Homo sapiens: one gene and its partners. The protein of the gene in region 3 purifies or fractionates together with the protein of the main gene of each other region. This does not show direct contact. Each region holds a gene or a part of one and is shown on either strand. Other genes may lie near its edges. The genes, in order: ZNF346, ZNF512 and ZNF485.

What was found.
Region 1: the proteins of ZNF485 (region 3) and ZNF346 purify together in Homo sapiens (affinity purification with mass spectrometry; one large-scale study listed by BioGRID and IntAct). This does not show direct contact.
Region 2: the proteins of ZNF485 (region 3) and ZNF512 purify together in Homo sapiens (affinity purification with mass spectrometry; one large-scale study listed by BioGRID and IntAct). This does not show direct contact.

What each region holds. Positions count from the first base shown.
Region 1 is NC_000005.10:177,043,081-177,046,732, forward strand, and holds part of ZNF346 (zinc finger protein 346), read left to right. Parts: intron 1-646; exon of another isoform or gene 647-1,136; coding exon of another isoform or gene 1,137-1,139; intron 1,140-1,308; coding exon 1,309-1,453; intron 1,454-3,652.
Region 2 is NC_000002.12:27,620,951-27,623,778, forward strand, and holds the end of ZNF512 (zinc finger protein 512), read left to right. Parts: intron 1-202; coding exon 203-511; 3' UTR 512-2,267; downstream 2,268-2,828. UniProt on the Homo sapiens protein: May be involved in transcriptional regulation.
Region 3 is NC_000010.11:43,604,957-43,609,380, reverse strand, and holds the start of ZNF485 (zinc finger protein 485), read right to left. Parts: upstream 2,944-4,424; 5' UTR 2,835-2,943; exon of another isoform or gene 2,818-2,834; intron 2,385-2,817; 5' UTR 2,331-2,384; coding exon 2,307-2,330; intron 768-2,306; coding exon 641-767; intron 148-640; exon of another isoform or gene 127-147; coding exon 31-126; intron 1-30. UniProt on the Homo sapiens protein: May be involved in transcriptional regulation.

The DNA of each region.
Region 1 (3,652 bases), on a different chromosome or scaffold from region 3:
ATCTCAAGTGATCTGCCTGCCTCAGCCTCCCAAAGTGCTGGGATTACAAGTGTGAGCCACTGCGCCCAGCCGCCTGGCTGATTTTTTAAAAAATTTTTCGTAGAGACAGGGTCTCGCTTTGTTGCCCAGGCTGGTCTCAAATTCCTGGTCTCAAGTGATCCTCCCACCTCAGGCTCCCAAAGTACCAGGATTACAGGTATGAGCCACCACACCTGGCCCTTTTCTCACAATTTATAATTCAGAAAGGCAAGATAAACTCTATGACCCTGGGCAAGTTATTTTACATATTTGCACCCTATTCAGAGATCAGGCTTTCTGAGAGAGATGCTGGGATCCCTTTATGTAGTCTTGAAATACATGGTTTCCTAGCCTAATCATAATCAACAAGTAGAACGCAATGGGAGGCTGGGTGCGGTGGCTCATACCTGTAATCCTAGCAATTTAGGTGGCTGAGGCAGGCGGATTGCTTGAGCTTGGGAATTCGAGACCACCCTAGGCAATATGGTGAAACCCCGTCTCTATAAAAAATACAAAAATTAGCCGGGTGTGGTGGCATATTCCTGTAGTCTGGCTACTTGCAGGGGTGGGTGGGAGAATTGCTTGAGCCCTGGAGGTGGAGGTTGCAGTGAGCCGAGATCGTGCCACTGCACTCCAGCCTGGGCAACAGAGTGAGACCCTGTCTTAAAAAAAAAAAACCTAATGGTCCACTTGTTCAGCAAACTCTGAGCATCTACTGTGTGCCAGACTCCAGCTGGGTGTGAAGGATAAGAAACAAAAATGAGTCAAATAGTCCGTGTTCCAATGTCACACTTGAGTTCACAGAAAAGTCTCCTAAGCTATGACACTGTCAGTTTAGGGTGGCAAGTGGTATGACAGAGGTCTATTTAATGTACTCTGGGAGCACAGAAGAGGAGCAGGGTTAATTCTTCCTGGAATACACAAAGGGACTTGACAGTTGTTTACTGAATGATGTTTTTTTTTTTTTGAGAGAAAGTCCCCCAGAGGAAAAGCTTATATTTAAATTGGGTCTTGAAGGCTAAGCAGACACGCTGCCAAGCAGGAAAGGAAGGAAGCACATTTTAGACAGCAGGAATGGCCAAAGCAAAGCAAGGAAGCATCAGAGAATAAAGTGGGGGATGGTGAGTAGAGTCTGGGACAAAGTAGCTGGAGAAGAATCTAGAAAGTAGGTTGGGGTTAATGTGTGAGGGGGGCCATAAATGCCTGTTCTGTTATGGGCAGTGGGGAACCATTGAAGATTTTCTGGTGGGGCAGTGGTATGATCAGACCTGTGTTCTTTCTTCCAACCAGAAGAGCAGCAGAAGCAAAGACAAGAACCAGTGCTGCCCCATCTGTAACATGACCTTTTCCTCCCCTGTCGTGGCCCAGTCGCACTACCTGGGGAAGACCCACGCAAAGAACTTAAAGCTGAAGCAGCAGTCCACTAAGGTGGAAGGTACTGGTTTTCCTGAGTAGTGCTATAGTGGGACCCCTGCCGTCCTCAGGGCACTACTGCCAGGGGCTCACAGAGATCCTCACTGAGGCCACAGACTTGAAGAAGTTGAATTGCTTTTGAGAACCCTTAAAAATCTCCAAGTAGACCCAGCTTCACTGAAATGCAATCTCAGAATTATGCTCACCTAACCTCCCTTTCTTTGGTTATAGGTTTTTCTCTATAGGCTGAGCTTTTGTCCTGACTAATAATTATAACTCAGGAGTGCCAAAGTCCTCCAGGCCACGCATACCATGAGAGCATTCTATCTCCTACCTCTCCCACTAGATTTTTCCATCCCAGCATCCACCTGCCCTTATTACTGCATGTTCCAAGTTGAAAGCTAAATCCTTGTCTTTTTCACATGCTCAGGTTATGGCCTACTCACTTTAATCCTCAAAAGCTGCCTGTTCTCCTCAAGACAGGGACTTGCCTTTCAAAGCTGAATACTTCAGTGCTGCTACTACTGCCCCACAATCTGTAACTGCCATGAATTCATTCCCAGTACAGTGACTTCTGAAATAGCCCCCTTTATCTCGTCACGACTAGGGCTCAGCCCTCACTTTCATCTCATTAACTCCTGACTTTCTGGGGTTTTAACCTCTGCTAATTGCAATTAGTCAAGAGTGAAAGTTCTTTGATGTTTATTTCATTGTTTTCTTGATAATTTTTGCTTCTCTATTTTGGACCAAGAAGTAGACTACACTATTAGTAATACTATTATCCTTTTTGTGTTTACTGACAACTGTGTTTTGGAAGCCTTCAAAGGTAGGGTGAAAAATCACTCATAATTTTTTTTTTTTGAGATGGAGTCTCGCTCTGTTGCCTAGGTTAGAGTGCAGTGGCATGATCTCGGCTCACTGCAAGCTCTACCTCCCAGGTTCATGCCATTCTTCAGCCTCAGCCTCCCAAGTAGCTGGGACTACAGGTGCCCACCACCATGCCCAGCTAATTTTTTTGTATTTTTTAGTAGAAACGGGGTTTCACTGTGTTAGCCAGGATGGTCTCAAACTCCTGACCTCGTGATCCACCTGCCTCGGCCTCCCAAAGTGTTAGGAATACAGGCATAAGCCACCACGCCGGCCAAAACCTTTTTTTTTAAATAGAGATGGCTTCTCACTATATTGCTCAGGCTGGTCTTGAACTCCTGGCCTTAAGTGATACTCCCATCTCAGCTTCCCAGAGTGCTGGGATTACAGGCATGAGCCACCACACCTGGCCACTCATAATTACACCTTTTTATCACACCCACATCTAGTTATTCATGGTATGAAACAGCAGAATGTGGACTTTGAAGTCACAGAGTCCCAGGTTTAAAGCCTGGCACTGTTACTGTTTATATGACTTTTTTGTGTCTGAACTGCCTAACCTATAAAATGATAATAATACTGTCTACTTCATCGGTTGTGAGGATACAATAATGTGTATTAAAAACACAGGACATAGGCCGGGCATGGTGGCTCATGCCTGTTGTAATCCCAGCACTTTGGGAGGCTGAGGTGGGCAGATCACTTGAAGTCAGGAGTTCAAGACCAGCCTGGTCAACACGGTGAAACCCAATCTCTACTAAAAATAACAAAAATTAGCTGGGTGTGGTGGCACGAGCCTGTAGTCCCAGCTTCTTGGGAGACTGAGGCAAGAGAATCGCTTGAACCCGGGAGCTGGAGGTTGCAGTGAGCTGAGATCGCACCATTGTACACCAGCCTGGGGGACAGAGCAAGACCTCGTCTCAAAAAAAAAAAAAAAAAAACCAATTTTATAAGGTCACAGACTTCTCTTCCCACAAATGGGAAAATTCTCTGCATTATGCCTTGTCCCTGAAATTTCATACTCGAGATTATTTTCCATATTCACTTTCAGCTTTTGCCACATACTTTGTTTTTATATAGTTGTGATCATAATGCAGGTACCCTTTATATCCCGCTTTTACTTTTCATTTAATTTTACAGCTTAAGCACATTTCCATGTTATTACACAACTTTATAACTATATTTCTGAAATTAAACACTTTTTAATGTAAAGTAATATAATCATGTTGTAAGAGATAAGGAAAACATGGATAAATGGAAAGAAAAGTTACCCATAATTTTACCATTCACAGATAAACACTGTTAACATTTTGGTTTCTCCTATAATCTGTTTCTCCTATAATCTTATTGTTAT
Region 2 (2,828 bases), on a different chromosome or scaffold from region 3:
CTTACAAAATATGTGCTTGTAATAGCTGCTCTGTGTTGGATTTCTCCATCTTAAAATATAGAATCCTGAGGTATGGTTCCATATCTGTTTCCTTCTTACTGTGTTCTGCCCTAATCATGCCTTTTTTCCATTCTTCCTCCACCTTTCTTTATGTTCTTCACTATATTTTCGACTGGATGACATTTCTATTTTGCCTCTCTAGGACTGGTTCGTTGTAAACCCAACAACAACCAAAAGCTTTGAAAAGCTGATGAAGATAAAGCAGCGGCAGCAAGAAGAAGAAAAGCGGAGGCAGCAGCACAGGAGCAGAAGGTCTCTAAGAAGGCGGCAGCAGCCTGGCATTGAGCTTCCCGAGACAGAGCTGAGTCTTAGAGTAGGGAAGGATCAGAGGAGGAATAATGAGGAACTGGTAGTGTCAGCCTCCTGTAAGGAACCAGAGCAGGAGCCAGTGCCAGCACAGTTCCAGAAAGTAAAGCCCCCAAAGACTAATCATAAACGAGGAAGGAAATAGGCAGTCAGTGTAAAAGTGCTCCTAGGAAAGCAGATGTGATGCTGTTGTCACGGGGACCTGTGCTGGGAGGACTGAGTGAAGATTCTTTCAGCTGTTTGTGTAAGGCTGTGACTTTCTCAGCTCCTTCCTCCTGTGTAAATTTCACTGTCTTCCCTTCTTACATTTTGATTCCCCCCTCCCCTTTTAGTAGGTTTTCCTGCTATTCCTCGTCAAGTCCTCTTGTTTTTTTATCTTGCCCAAAGAGCTCCCTCTCAAGGCCAACTATAGGCTCCTCTTGCCCTGTACAAAACTAAGAAACCTCTTTGGTTGTCCTTTCCTTCCTGGGGTATAGAATGTTCTTGGAAGCTCCATTGATTTAGTAGCTGCTCCATCATCTAGCTTGTGAAACCATTCCAAACTAATTTTTTAAAACCATAACTGATTTGTCATTTTGTATTTGTGATATAACAAGTCTAGAAGTTAGAACTGTTGTCATTCACATAATAAGATTACTCTGTCTCCTTGGGAAAAAAACTTTATGGAGGCTGTTTGTCCTCTCAATATGGTTTTAAGATTGAAAGTAAGAAAACGGATTTAGGATGAAAACTCTAGAACTACCCTATGCTGTTTATACTGGGAAATGCTTTGTACCAAGTAGCAGTGACTAGACCCACAGACATGAAAAGCAACCTTAGGAGTAAAGTGACCCAAACATTAAAATGACAGGAAAGAGAAAGTAGAAGCAGCAATAAATACTGCCCCAACTTTCCTGGAGCCCGAGGCCTCATCCATAGCTATGATCACTTGCCCTCTGAAGCTTATTTTTGCTTCTTTGGTTTTAAGAATTGAGAAATATCACATTGCCCCTGATGTTTTGACAGTCTCCTAGTGCTCCTGGTAGTGCCACTAAGGGAAAACCAAGGTGCGCATTCCTTCTCCCTGGACTTTACCTTACTTGTTAGTCTACGCCCCACTGTTTCCACCCATCCCCTTAGCCAACCTCTGTCTTTTTGAATTTTCTGAGAATATTGTCCTATCCTCTTTTATATATGGAGTTCTCTCCTCTTTATATCCTGAGACTTTGACACCAGATGTAGATATTTATCTGGAGCTGGAAAGAAAAATTCTTTTTCTGTACCTCATGCCTATCTGGTAATGTTTAATGGGTTATTTCTCTTTGAGGGTGGCTTTCTCTGGAACATTGGTTAGAGCAGCTTTGTTGTCGTGTTTCTGGATTCTCTTCCCCATTTTGCGTAAATATTGGTCTTATATATTCTTGCCTATTTTGTGGCATATGCCACATAAAAAATGAACCTGATATAGACAAGTACTACCTTTTCAAATTCTGAAAGGCTATTACCACTTTAACTCTTTGTGCTCCTCCAAATAGCTTTAAAATGTGGGCTTTTGTGAAGACCACTTTCAAACAAGGGAGCACTGAAACCTGAATTGGATACTGCCAGAATAGGTAGTTTTGAAACAAGTTAAGGACATGGTATATGCACTCTGCATTTTCATTGGCAGTGTGCCCTTAAAGCCCTTTCAGTAGATGAGGGTTGTCAGGGAGGAGAAATGAAGAAGCTATGTTAATTTCTGGTGAGTAAGACCTGGGGAATGTTTGGCAATGACAAAAGAAATAAATGACTCTCAGAAAGATGTTTCCAGTGTTCTTTGACGCCGACCTGCTGCATGACTCCTTGACACTGTATGGGGGTAAGAAGATGGCTAGAGATGGGGGTGAGTTTGAAATAAATTCCACATGCAGTTGTCTCAGTAATTCTTTGGTTCATGAATTATGCTGGTTAAAATGAGTAGTTTGAGATTAAAGTGAATTAGTATAGGAAACTTGCCCAGTTTCATCCAGGGACCTCTTGCAGGCATTCCTTTCGTTTTTCCTGACCAAGACCAGGGATCAGCAGGACTCAGTATAGACTATTCTAATCACAGTATTGAGTTTTAAAGTTTTTTTAAAAAAAATTCATTAGACTAACAAACTAAGTTTGACAGTATTATGAACTTTCATACATGGTTTGGAATGCAAATTGGTACAATCACTTCAAAAGTGATTTGGCAGTATCTAGCAGAGTTGAAGATATGTACCCGAAGACTTAGCAGTTTCTCTCCTGGGTATACACAGAGTAACTCCTTTTGTCTAGGCGTACCAAGAGACACAAAAAAGAATGATTATTGCAGTACAGTTTACAGTAGAGAAATACTGAAAACAAGTATCAGAGATCTACTTTCACCTTTGCAAATTATGGGATTATAGAACAAATGGCTAGACTGTATATTTCCTAGTTATCCCCCTTCCCTCCACTCTCTCTAGTGAAGGAGAAGC
Region 3 (4,424 bases):
CTTCTGCTGGGATGTTCCCCACCCACTCACCTGCATGTGTGCCTGATGGAGCCTCTCGCACCTCAGTCCAGGGCTCTGCCCCTTGCTCCAACTGAGTAATTAGTTTTGGTTTGGAAGAGAGAAGCCCTGTTCATAAAGAAAAAGGATCTTAGAGGAAGAAAAAAAAAATGAATGAAAAGGAATGTGATGGCGGTTACAAGCACAAGCAGTCACTCCAGACCTCAGTGTCAACTTGAGCATCTGCAATGAGCATGGACAGGTCAGAGAGGCCTAGAGGGTGGCACCCAGGATGTCCAACTCATGAAGTAAAGCAAAGGGAGGGGGCAAAGTCAACTAGAAAACCAGGTCCTCCTGGAGGACGAGAAACTCCTATTTTGGGAGGCAGATGAATCATGACACAGAAACATTCCAGAACTGGGCTAGTTGGCACCACAAAGCTACCCATCTTAACTCTGTATGGCTCTGACCTTTCTTGAGGGGTGTAAGGGGCATAAACTCCAGCCTCTAAGCCCATACTTAAGAAAAACAAAACAAAAAGCACATCATTTAAGATTTTTTCAATACCCCAAACCATTCACCCTGTGAAAACACAAAGTTGCCCAGCAGACCAATCCTGAGTCAAGGAGAAAGCCATCCTCACCCACAGACACCAGATTCCCATAGTTCTCCAGCATCACATCCCTGTACAGGGCCCGCTGAGCAGCATCCAGGTGTCTCCACTCAATCCGGGTAAAGGCCACAGCCACATCCCCAAATGTCAGCGGTCCCTGCAAAACCAAACCCAATTCTGCTCATCCGGGAACCCCTGAGGGAGGCATCCCAAGAGAAGGAAGCAAGGTGGTCAAAGCCAGCTTCTGACAGTTCCAACAGTGCTCATGGAAACCAACAAGTAAAAGCTGAGGGCTCAGGGGATGTGCGACTCCTCCCTTGAGCAGGTTCTTCCTGCATGCCTGTCCTGCTCCCTCCTCCAGGCCTAGCCTCTGCTCACTCCACCCTTCATGTCACCTCATCAAAAAGGTCTTCTATTTCTCCACCCCATCCTCTGCCACTCAGTCTCGAAACCCATTTCACTTTTCTTCACAGGATTTCTCACCACCTGGCAGGAGAGGTTTGCACTGACTGTCAGCATCCTCTCTAATGTGAGCTCCAGGGGGACAGTGTGGGTCACTGCTGCCTCCCAGTCAAAAACACTGCCTGACACAGAAGTGTTCAAGCTTTATTCAATCAACAAATGAATAGAAACTTTGAAAAGACATGGAAAGTGATTAGCTTTATCCGAGAATTTACAGGGAGTATGATCTGACTCTGGGGCAGAATATTTTTAAAAAAGAAAAAAAAATTGCTTTTCATAAGAGTAACAACTTACTATGTACCAGCCACGGTGCTAAACCCTGAGATACATATCATCTCTCTAAATTTCTGCCGTAACTATATAAAGTAAAATCTATTTCGTAGCTAAAGACACAAAGGTTCAGAGAGTTGGAAGAACTTGCTCAAGGTCCCAGGGCTGGTTGAAGGCACAGTATAAAAGGAAGCCACAAAAAGTGGTAATGAAACTAGAACAAATTGGAATGGCTATGAAATACTAAAAGAAAAAATGAGTAAGCCTTAAAAAAATGAAAAGTGTGTTTCAAATGAAATTACTTGACTTAGAGCAGTAGAAATGTAGGTGATCTTTAATTTTTTTAATTTTATTTGTATAATAGACACTCAAATGTTTATCACTTCCTTTCAAAATACCAATTATTTAATCAGCTTCTCAAAATCCTTCAAAACCTAGTTTTCTCCAGGATAAAAGCAAACTCCAGTCTGGGATTCTAGACCATGAATGTTTCCAACTTTCTCAGACCAGTTTGTTCATGGTCCCGCCATAATGACTTCATTCAGGCAGCGCTTTCCCCTAGTATCCTCTGCAATTATGCAAATCTCATTTATTCTTCAGGAAGAACTAAGGCGCCCACTACTCCACCCCTCCCACCCTACCACACACTAAAGGTCAAGAGAGCACTGCTATCACCCTATGTCTTTATGGCCTACGTCTTTACATGCTAACGTGTATTTTTTTCATCGTCTGCCAGTTTGCAAAGCACTTTTCTGTTTCTAGCACTCTAGAAAACATGGGTAGCAATAATCTACTTGGTGAATGACTACGTAATGGGTAGACAGGACGGAAATCGCGGGACCCATCCAGGATTGGTTCGGGTAGCTTTGTCCACACACAGGGCAGGGCATTGTCCGGGCAAGAGGCATAAACCCCACCTCGCTGAAACACGTGGTTTCTCAAGAAATGGAAAAATCAAACTTGCCTGGATCTGGGCTCTTGGGGCCATCTGTCTCCTGAACTGTTCTCCCAGGCAAGGGCTGAGAATCCTGCGTAAGTCAATCTGGGAAAGAAGAGAGGAAATTGAGGAAGTCCCTCCGTGCCCTAGCCTAGCTAGAATCTGCCCTCTAGACCAGGTCCCCGCCCGCCCGTTCCCTCCACAGGTGGGCAGACAGGTCCAGGTGGGTACGCTCGGGAAGAAAGGAAAGGGAACGGCTGCTGGGATCCGGCCTGGACTGCAGCCAGCTCCACGCCAAACACTTTTGGCAGCACCGGGGGACGGCCTTGTCAGTGGCCCAATCTGTCGGCCGGGGCGCAAGGCTGGAGCGCTCTGTGATGCACCAGCCTCGAGCGGTCGCTCCACACGGCGCAGCCACTGCGGGTGGGCACTGCCCACCGCCGCCTTCCCCTCCCACCCCGGCTCGCCCCTCGACCCGCCCCTGGGAAAGGCGGGGAGCACCCGCCAGGGGCTCGAGGCTTCAGGGACCCAGCCTGACCCCGGCCGCTCACGAACCGAACCGAGCCGGCAGGGCTGCGGAGCTGCACGCCCAGAGAGTCAGCGACCACACCACGCCGTTCGGACAGTAACCACCAGCCAGGGGCTGGTGCAGCGCTCGCACCACGCGGAGACAGGCTGGACCGGAAGCGGAAGTGGCTGAGGCCGCGGAGGCCTCTGGGAAACGTAGTCTGGGCCGCTTGGGGTCTTAGGGGCTCCATCCGCAGAGCAGGTTGGCATCACCTGGGAATCTTTGAAAAGTGAAGGTGCGGGAAGTGGAGAGCGGCTGATCGCAGTCGGGAGGTGATACATTATGACTGACATGCAAAATCTGGTAAAAAATTGGACAGGGCAGTGGGCCGCCTGGAGGCAGTATCCCATACCTCTGACATGCACCGTGGATATGGAGATAGTCCTTCAAAAGCAGGAGCAGCTCCATATGCGCAGGCATTTGACTCGCTGCTTGCCTGCCCTGTGGCAGAGTACTTGAAGATCAGTAAAGAGATTGGGGAAGACGTGCAGAAAGATGTGGAGATGGTACACACAGTTTTGAAGTTGGAGTGAGCTCTCTTGGTTACAGCTTCTCAGTGTCAATAGCCGGCAGGTAATAAGCTTTCCGATCTGTTGGCACCTATCTCAGAGCAGATCAAAGAAGTGATAACCTTTTGGGAGAAGAACCGAGGCAGCAAGTTGTTTAATCAGCTGTCAGCTGTCAGTGAAAGTATCCAGGCCCTAGGCTGGGTGGCTATGGCTCCCAATCCTGGCCCTTATGTGAAAGAAATGAATCATGCTGCTGTGTTTTATACAAACTGAGTCCTTAAAGAGTACAAAGATGTGGATAAGAAGCATGTAGACTGAGTCAAAGCTTATTTAAGTATATGCACAGAGCTGCAGGCTTACATTAAGGAGTTCCATACCACCGGACTGCCTGGAGCAAAACGGGGCCTGTGACAAAAGAACTGAGTGGACTGCCATCTGGACCCTCTGCTGGATCAGCTACTCCTCCCCCACCACCAGGCCCCCCTCCTCCACTAGTCTCTGTCAGTTCAGGCTCAGATGAGTCCGCTTCCCTCTCAGCACTGTTTGCGCAGATTAATCAGGGGGAGAGCATCACACATGCCCTGAAACGTGTATCTGATGACATGAAGACTCACAAGAACCCTACCCTGAAGGCTCAGAGTGGTCCAGTACGCAGTGGCCCCAAGCCATTCTCTGCACCTAAACCCCAAACCAGCCACAAAGAAGGAGCCAGCTGTACTTGAACTGGAGGGCAAGAAGTGGAGAGTGGAAAATCAGGAAAATGTTTCCAATCTGGTGATTGATGACACAGAGCTGAAACAGGCGGCTTACATATACAAGTGTGTCAACACGATGTTGCAAATCAAGGGCAAAATTAACTCCATTACAGTAGATAATTGTAAGAAACTTGGTCTGGTATTCGATGATATGGTGGGCATTGTGGAGATAATCAACAGTAGGGATGTCAAAGTTCAGGTGATGAGTAAAGTGCCAACCATTTCCATCAACAAAACAGATGGCTGCCATGCTTACCTGAGCAAGAATTCCCTGGATTGTGAAATAGCCAGTGCCAAATCTTCTGAGATGAAT